Regions from separate parts of the Homo sapiens genome. Here region 2 is reported to be linked to region 1. Evidence: microRNA targets listed by miRTarBase, many of them from high-throughput screens and not tested one by one. Region 1 holds a microRNA gene; the other region holds the end of a gene's coding sequence.
What was found. The annotated mature microRNA hsa-miR-1272 reads GAUGAUGAUGGCAGCAAAUUCUGAAA and lies in region 1 at 1,691-1,716, shown strand. An mRNA with a match to its seed (bases 2 to 7 or 8) in the 3' UTR can be bound and repressed. Matches are read on the target gene's strand: a 7mer-m8 pairs with bases 2 to 8, a 7mer-A1 pairs with bases 2 to 7 and ends in A, and an 8mer does both.

Region 1 (4,580 bases):
GCAGGAGGTGGGTGGGCCTGGGAGGCTTCCATGCCGGGGTGCCCAGTGAACTTTGCCCCTGAAAGCCAAGTCCTGGCCCCTGGCTCTGTCTGGATCCTGATGGAAGGCACGCTTCAGCCAGCCTGCCCTGACACAGAGTTTGCAAGCACAGCTCATTCTCTGTTTGGTCTAGTTCCCTAAATGAGGTGTAGGTCAAGTGCACACAACAGGCTTTGACCAGGTGTGTTCCCACGACATTAAGGCTTCTCTTCCTGGGGCTGGAAGTGGCTTGGAGAATGAGGCCTGAAGCCTTCTTATACCTGCCCAGCCCTGTCCCTCCTTTCAGATAACTTTTCACCCTGGCTTAGTTCCCCCCAGTCTCTATTCCCCCCACCCCTACACACACACACCATTGGAAGTCTAGGACACATTGCACATTATGAGGAAGAGCCCCAAACTTTTCAGGCAACTTGGACTTAAGCCTCAGCTCTGCCACTGGCCAGCCAGGCACTTGATCCCTGGACTGACTTCTGCATCTGTAAAATGGGGACCCCATACCTGTTCTACCTGTTGCTCAAAGGACTATGAGCTTTGCATGCTGATGGTTTGTGTAAAGGAATGAAACTACAAGGTGCAGCCCAGGATGGGGCCTTATAGCCAGGCCCTGATAACATGGGATTTGGGGCAAGAGGGATAGCAGGGGCAGGCAGAACACCAGATCCCACCTGAACCTGGGACTTGTCCTTACTAGGTGAGGCTGTGGTGACACTGGTAAACTCTGGGGCCAAGTGTCCTCTAGATGGGGGCTTCTTGCAAGGGGATCTGGGCATCGTCCTTGCCTGGGTAGCTGAGCCACCCCAGAGCTCCTTGCAGGAAGCATGGGAAACATGTTGTGGAGTGTGTGGATCTAGGTTCACATCCACTGTCTGGCTGTGTGCTGCTTGCTGTCTTCCCCTGTGTCCTTATTCAGAGCCTTATAAGTCCTGGGTCTGCAGGCCATGTCGCCACATTCCATCCACCTCACGTCAAGTGGCCATACTCAGAGGGCCTTCTTTCCTATGGGAGGCGTAAGAGCAACCTGCTGGTGCCAAGCCTAAGCGCGGGGCCCAGGCAGGACCCAATCCCCCAAAACACTCCCACCCCCACCCCCTACCCACTACGGCGACCAAGACCACACCAAGGGTATGACTGCCCTGACGTTTCTGTTCGGCAGCCCTAACGTTGGCTCTGCAGAGACCCCCCTCAAGTTCCCAGGCCCAGGTCGGTCTAGGGCCCAGAGCTGGCTGGCCCCTGACTTCCATCTTGTCCCCTTCTCTTCTCTGTTCACACCACTTCTTTGCCACCTTGTGTGCAGAAGGAGTCACTGAAGCTCTGAGCAGATGGAGGATGGTGGCTGAGTCTTATCTGAGACTCAGTCGCATTCTACTGCCCTTTAAAACGCCTGGTGTCATAGAGTGTCAGTGTGTGACGGGACCTGAGGCGAGTCTACTCTACTGTAGCTGAGGCTGACAAGCGAAGGCCACAAAGCCACCTGCTATGGCTGGTGACAGGGCTGGGGCTTCACCCTGGGCTTCCTGACGTTGTTTTGAGGTTCTTTGTCTTTTGTTTGGAATCTCGTCAGTGGGTATCTTCTGAGCTGGACCCTGAGTGCAGTGTCCTGGTTCTCAGTGGGGTCTCTTTCCCTTGGGGAAGCCAGATCAGATCTGGGTGCGATGATGATGGCAGCAAATTCTGAAAACGTGCTCAGTGTCTTTATAACAGGAAAGCCGTAAACTTAGAAATGTAGGCTGCAGCTCGTGTGCTCTGTGGTCTGGGCTGGTAGGGATGGCTGGGCCTGCTCCAGCACCCATCCCCAACCTCCCCATAGCTAGTGGGGCACAAGGCCACTCACACTCAGCTGTGGGGAGTTGACAGTCTGTCAGTCAGTCTCGTCGTTGGCCTGTAACCATGTAGGATTCACCGTGGCATCATCCAGTGGGACCACCCCCCACCCCCCTGCCATCGCCACCATCACCATCATACCTACCCCAACCTTTTGCAAGATACTGTGTCTGTCCTCTTTGTTCATGAGCTGAAGACCAGGCCAGGCGTGAGTCACTTTGGGATTGCAGGAGGATGGCTTGAGTCCAGGAATTCGAGATGAGCTTGGGCAACATGGTGAGACCCCACCTCTACACAAAATTAAAAAATTAGCCGGGAGTTGGGCACAGTGGCTCATGCTTGTAATCCCAGCACTTTGGGATGCTGAGGCGGATGGATCACTTGAGGTCAGGAGTTTTTGAGACCAGCCTGGCCAACATGGTGGAACCCCATCTCTACTAAAAATACAAAAATTGTCGGGCATGGTGGTGGGTGCCTATAATCCCAGCTATTTGGGAGGCTGAGGCAGGAGAATCACTTGAACCCAGGAGGCGGAGGTGGAGGTTGCAGTGAGCCAAGATCATGCCATTGCATTGCAGCCTGGGCGACAGAGTGAGACTCCGTCTCAAAAAAAAAAAAAAAAAAAAAAAAGCTGGGCTTTGTGGTGTGCACCTGTGGTCCCAGTTACTCAGGAGATGGAGGCAAGAGGATCGCTTGAGTCCAGGAGGCTGCAGTGAGCCATGTTTGCGCCACTGCACTCCAGCCTGAGCAACAGAGCAAGACCCTGTCTCAAAAAAGCCGAAGGCCAGTTGTTCCTGGGTACCTTGGGCTGGCCCCACTGGGTCTGAGTGGGTTGGTGTGAGATCAAGGTCTGCAAAAGAGCATTGACTCGTGAGCTGGGCACTTGGGAACAGGCTGTTTCTGACATGCTCGGTAACTGCGAGCAACTCGCTCGACCCCTAGGCCCTGGTTTCCTCCTCTAAAAATAAGGTTTCTTCCAGCTCAGATGTTCTGTATTTGGGTTGCTACTGAGGGCTGGGAGTTGGGGAAGGATGTGGGAGGGGCTTATAAGAGGCTCGTTTTTCCCTTTTTGGATTTCTCTCCTCTTCTCACCCCCTTCCCAAAGTAGTGTTTTCCATCGGGATGACACCGGGAGAGCTCGCTCGAAGCAGTGGGTAGGGGACTGCTGAAGCACGTGCATTCGTTACTTGAACATTGTGAGTGGACAGTTGAAACAATTCTTCCTTTCCAGATTGAATTCTAACTTTTAGAGATGCTAAAGGGTTGCTGCAAAAGTCTTTTTTTTTTTTTTTTTAAGGATATTTCTATTGCCTGCAGTGAGATTTTCCTGGGGTGTCTTTTCTCCAAGTCCCAATCCTGTGAGACAGGAATTTACAGAAGGCCAGAGTTGGCCTCTAGGGGTGACTGTTCCTGGTGGGTTGGTGGGTTGTCTGTGGGCAGGGAAGAGTGGGGAGTGGTTCCAGTGGTTTCTTGCCTCAGTATCCTTGGTGGAGAAGGGTCTGTTTGCTTTCTTTTTTTTTTTTCGAGATGGAGTTTCACTCTTTTTGCCCAAGCTGGAGTGCAATGACGTGATCTCGGCTCAGTGCAACCTCTGTCTCCTGGGTTCAAGCGATTTCTCCAGCCTCAGCCTCCCGAGTAGCTGGGATTACAGGCGTGCGCTACCATGCCTGGCTGATTTTTGTATTTTTAGTGGAAAGGGGATTTCACCATGTTAGCCAGGCTGGTCTAGAACTCCTGACCTCAGGTGATCCGGAGAAGGATCTGTTTTCTAGGTGGTGGTTCCTGGAGTCTGGGGTCCTTTCGTGGCTATTCTAAGGCCGGGATTTGTCCTCCAAACTTAAAGCTTAAGAGACTTTAATATCCCTGAGCCTACCACTGTTTTTGAAAGCAGTGTTTACCTTTTCCATCACTAATAAAAGCCAGCACTTACGGAACTTGTCCTCATGGTCACAGTATCTGAGAAGTTTAGAGTTGGATCCCTCAGCATCGGGCTTGTCCTTCCCCTTGCAGAGGGAGACACGCTTCTGGTGAGCGGCCAGGCCGCAGCCACTTCTGACCAAGTGTGGGGTCCCCATGGTCGTGGCTCCTGGCCGACCCCATGTCCCAGTCCTGTTCTTCATGGAGGCTTTGCTCAGCTGCTTTGGCCCCTCCTTCTCCCCCACGAGCCCATTCCCTATTCCTGCAGGACCTCCATGTGAGCTGGGCCCTGTGTGTGCCCTGGAAGGAGGGACCCTAAGCATCTGCTGTCCAGGGCACTGGCCTTTTGTGGCAGCAGCTTGAATGCCAGGTCTGCCCATGGCAGTGTCCAGGGCCAAGAGAGACGTCTACCTGAGCTGATAGACACAGGCCGAGTAGGCCTGGCGCGGTGGCTCACGCCTGTAATCCCAGAACTTTGGGAGGCCAAGGTGGGCAGATCACTTGAGGTCAGGAGTTCAAGACCATCCTGGCCAACATGGCGGAACCCCATCTCTACTAAAAATACAAAAATTAGCCGGGCATGGTGGCGCGCTCCTGTAGTCATAGCTACTCCGGAGGCTGAGGCAGGAGAATCGCTTGAACACGGGAAGTAGAGGTTGCAGTGAGCTGAGATGGTGCCACTGCACTCCAGCCTAGGTGACAGCAAGACTCCATCTCAAAAAAATTAAAAAATAATTAAAAAAAGAAAAACAGGCCGAGTCCCTTTCCACGCAAGCCTGGATTTGTGCTGGTGTCTTGGGTGC
Region 2 (3,000 bases), not on the chromosome of region 1:
CTCGTGCAGCACCAGCGCACGCACACCGGGGAGCGACCCTACGCCTGCGGGGACTGTGGCAAGCGCTTCAGCGTCTCCTCCAACCTGCTGCGCCACCGGCGCACGCACTCGGGCGAGCGGCCCTACGTGTGCGAGGACTGTGGCGAGCGCTTCCGACACAAGGTGCAGATCCGCCGCCACGAGCGCCAGCTGCACGGCGCGGGCCGCTCCAGGGGCCTCGGCCTGCTGCGCGCCTCGCGGCCGGCGGCCCTCGGTGGCCCAGCCCGCGCGGAGCAGGCCGCTACAGCCACTGCGCCCGCAGACAAGGCGCTGTGAGGGCCGTGATCGGGGCTGCCTGGCCGGGAGGGGACCCCCCACCCGCCTCCACCTGAAAAGCTCCTTGACCCGGGTTCATGGGCGCTGGAGGCGTCCTGGAATATCCCTGGAGTAAAAGGCTTCCACCATCATCATCATCATCATCTTCCGGATTCCCTGAGAAAATACCAGGTTCACAGATTTCACCGCCAGAAAAATCCATCCGCCAAAAGAGAAGTGGACCGGGGCTGAAACAGCACACGGGACACGTTTGTCTGCCCTTTGAGGGGTCTGCCAAAGGTTTTCCCTCCGGGAAAACTGGACTTACTACGAACGAGGAAAAACCCCCAGTGGCGAGACGATTAATGACACTGGCCGAGGACTGGACACCCACCAGGGAATCAAGACGTGGTGAGACACACGTGGAAAATCTTCGATCCTGGTGAAAATGATCGCAAGGAGAAATTCGGGGAGGAAGCAAACTTGTTTGCACTATGTAGAAACTGACCAAGGCATCGAATCGTCCTCAGAGGCATTTGCCTTGAAAATACTTTCCAAGATGAAAATTCATCAGGGTGGGTATAATTCTGATGAAAACGCCTGTGTTCATCAACACAGGGTCAGAGCGCTCACCGGGTCGATGTGCAAATCCAAGCCAGGAAGTCCTGCTCCGGGTGGAAGGTAAAACCTTCCCTCCAGGGAACCAGGGGCTCCGGCGGGCATCGGAGGCAGCTTCTTGGCCTCTGCTGCTGTGTCCCCCAGTCCCCCCAGCCCGCATTAATGTCCTCTGGAATAAGAGCCTGTGGCTGAAGCAGAGGGCCTTCTGGGAGAGCTCTCCAAGGTCTGGAAGGAGGGTCCCCCAGAAGGAGCTCCGGGGTAGCCCCACTGTGGCCCCCCTGGACTCCACCAGCTTCATGCTTCTCAGATGCTACCCAGGGGCCGGCCCGGGGAGACCAGGGCAGATTTCTCCCGCACCAGGCTGTGGAGGTTTGGAGGGCTGCCTGAGCAGACACTGTGCCATTGCTGGGGCTGGGGAAAGAATATCTGAGACGACGTTTGGGAGCAATGCTCTTTACCACGTTCACCAAGTCGTCTGGGGCAGGGGTTGTGAGCTGCAGCAGTTGCTGGTGCCTTGTGGGAAGGTGGGGCAGGGAGGAGGCTGCCCGCCACCTCTGCCCCCAGTCACTTCCTGCTTGACCTGACTCTTCACATGTGGCTGCTTAATTCCTGCCCCTCTCCCCCCAGCTGCTTCTCCTTTACTAACACACCTGCTACATTTTACACATGTGTTGGTAAGTGAGAAACAGAAACGAAAAATAAATTAAAATGCAGAAATACAATGTCCTTGTCTTGGTGTTTTCACCTCTGGATTTTGTGTCTTCCATAGGGCTTCCTTTCTTTTCTTTCTTTCTTTTTTCCTTCCCTTCCCTTCCTTTCCCCGTCCCCCTTTTCCCCTTTCTTTCCTCTTTACCCTTCCCTTCCTTTCCTTTCTTCTTTCTGTTTCTTTTCTTTCTTTTTTTTTTAATGTTGCCTGGGCTGGTCTCAAACTCCCAGGCTCAAGCAATCCTTCCACCTCAGCCTCGCAAACTGCAGGGAGTACAGGTGTAGCCACTGTGCCTGGCCAAAGATTCATTCCTTTTTTTCTTTCTTTTTTTGAAAGAGGTTCTTGCTCTGTTGCCCAGGCTAGAATGCAGTGGTTTGATCACTGCAACCTGAAACTCCTGGGCTCAAGCAATTCTCCTACCTCAGCCTCCTGAGTAGGTGGGACTACAGGTGCATGCCACAATGTCTGGCTAATTTTTTTTTTTTTTTTTTTTTTTTGAGATGGAGTCTCACATTGTTGCCCAGGCTGGAGTGCAGTAGCATGATCTCTGCTCACTGCAACCTCCGCCTCCTGGGTTCAAGCGATTCTCCTGCCTCAGCCTCCTGAGTAGCTGAGATTACAGGCACCCGCCACTACGTCCGGCTAATTTTTTGTATTTTTAGTAGAGATGGGGTTTCACCATGTTGGCCAGGCTGGTCTTGAACTCCTGACCTTGTGATCTGCCCGCCTCAGCCTCCCAAAGTCCTGGGATTACAGGTATGAGCCCCTGCACCTGGCCATGTCTGGCTAAATTTTAATTAGTTTTTAGAGAGGGGGTCTCACTGTGTCGCCCAGGCTGTTGAGGTTCATTTCAAGGAAAATGTTTCTGGTTGCTCTCGAGCAAGGAGCATGCTGTTCAGGCCCATTACCCAATCCTCCTCACCCCAGACCAGCCTTCCAGCCTGAGGCCCTTGGCTGGGTAATGGACTTACTCGGTGAGAACCTCATGGGAGGGTCAGGTACCAGAGGGTGGATGCTTGAGAAGGCCAGCTTTGGGATCTAGTAAGGACAACCTTTGTATCAATTCAGCCCAACTTGGTAGTGGCTCACACCTGTAATCCCAGCACTCTGGGAGTCTGAGGTGGGGGGATCACTAGAGGTCAGGAGTTTGAGACCAGCCTGGGCAACATAACAAAACCCCATCTCTACTAAAAAATAATACCACTGCACTCCAGTCTGGGAAACAGCGAGACCATTTCCCCCTCCACCCCCCAAAAATTCAGGCCAGCTGCAGCCTGGAGTGATGGTGCTGAGCTCGCCCTGCTGCACAGCCACTTGGAGGAGCATCGTGAGGCCTGGAGTCTCCTCCCAGCCCTGAGAGTCTTCATTCATTCATTCATTCA

Region 2: the mRNA of ZNF853 is a reported target of hsa-miR-1272. Seed matches in the 3' UTR shown: 7mer-m8 at 444-450, 7mer-m8 at 447-453, 7mer-m8 at 450-456 and 7mer-m8 at 453-459.

The regions. Positions count from the first base shown.
Region 1 is chr15:64,759,607-64,764,186 of GRCh38, reverse strand. It overlaps MIR1272 (microRNA 1272), which reads left to right and starts at 1,672; the gene lies at 1,672-1,800. The region is part of intron 1 of RBPMS2 (RNA binding protein, mRNA processing factor 2); the gene reads left to right. RefSeq lists an enhancer at 1-444.
Region 2 is chr7:6,622,657-6,625,656 of GRCh38, forward strand. ZNF853 (zinc finger protein 853) reads left to right here. Exons shown (of 3, transcript NM_017560.3): 3 at 1-1,634. The coding sequence ends at 315. Among named protein-coding and RNA genes, the nearest start is that of ZNF853, 8.5 kb to the left of the region's middle. RefSeq lists an enhancer at 1,278-1,778.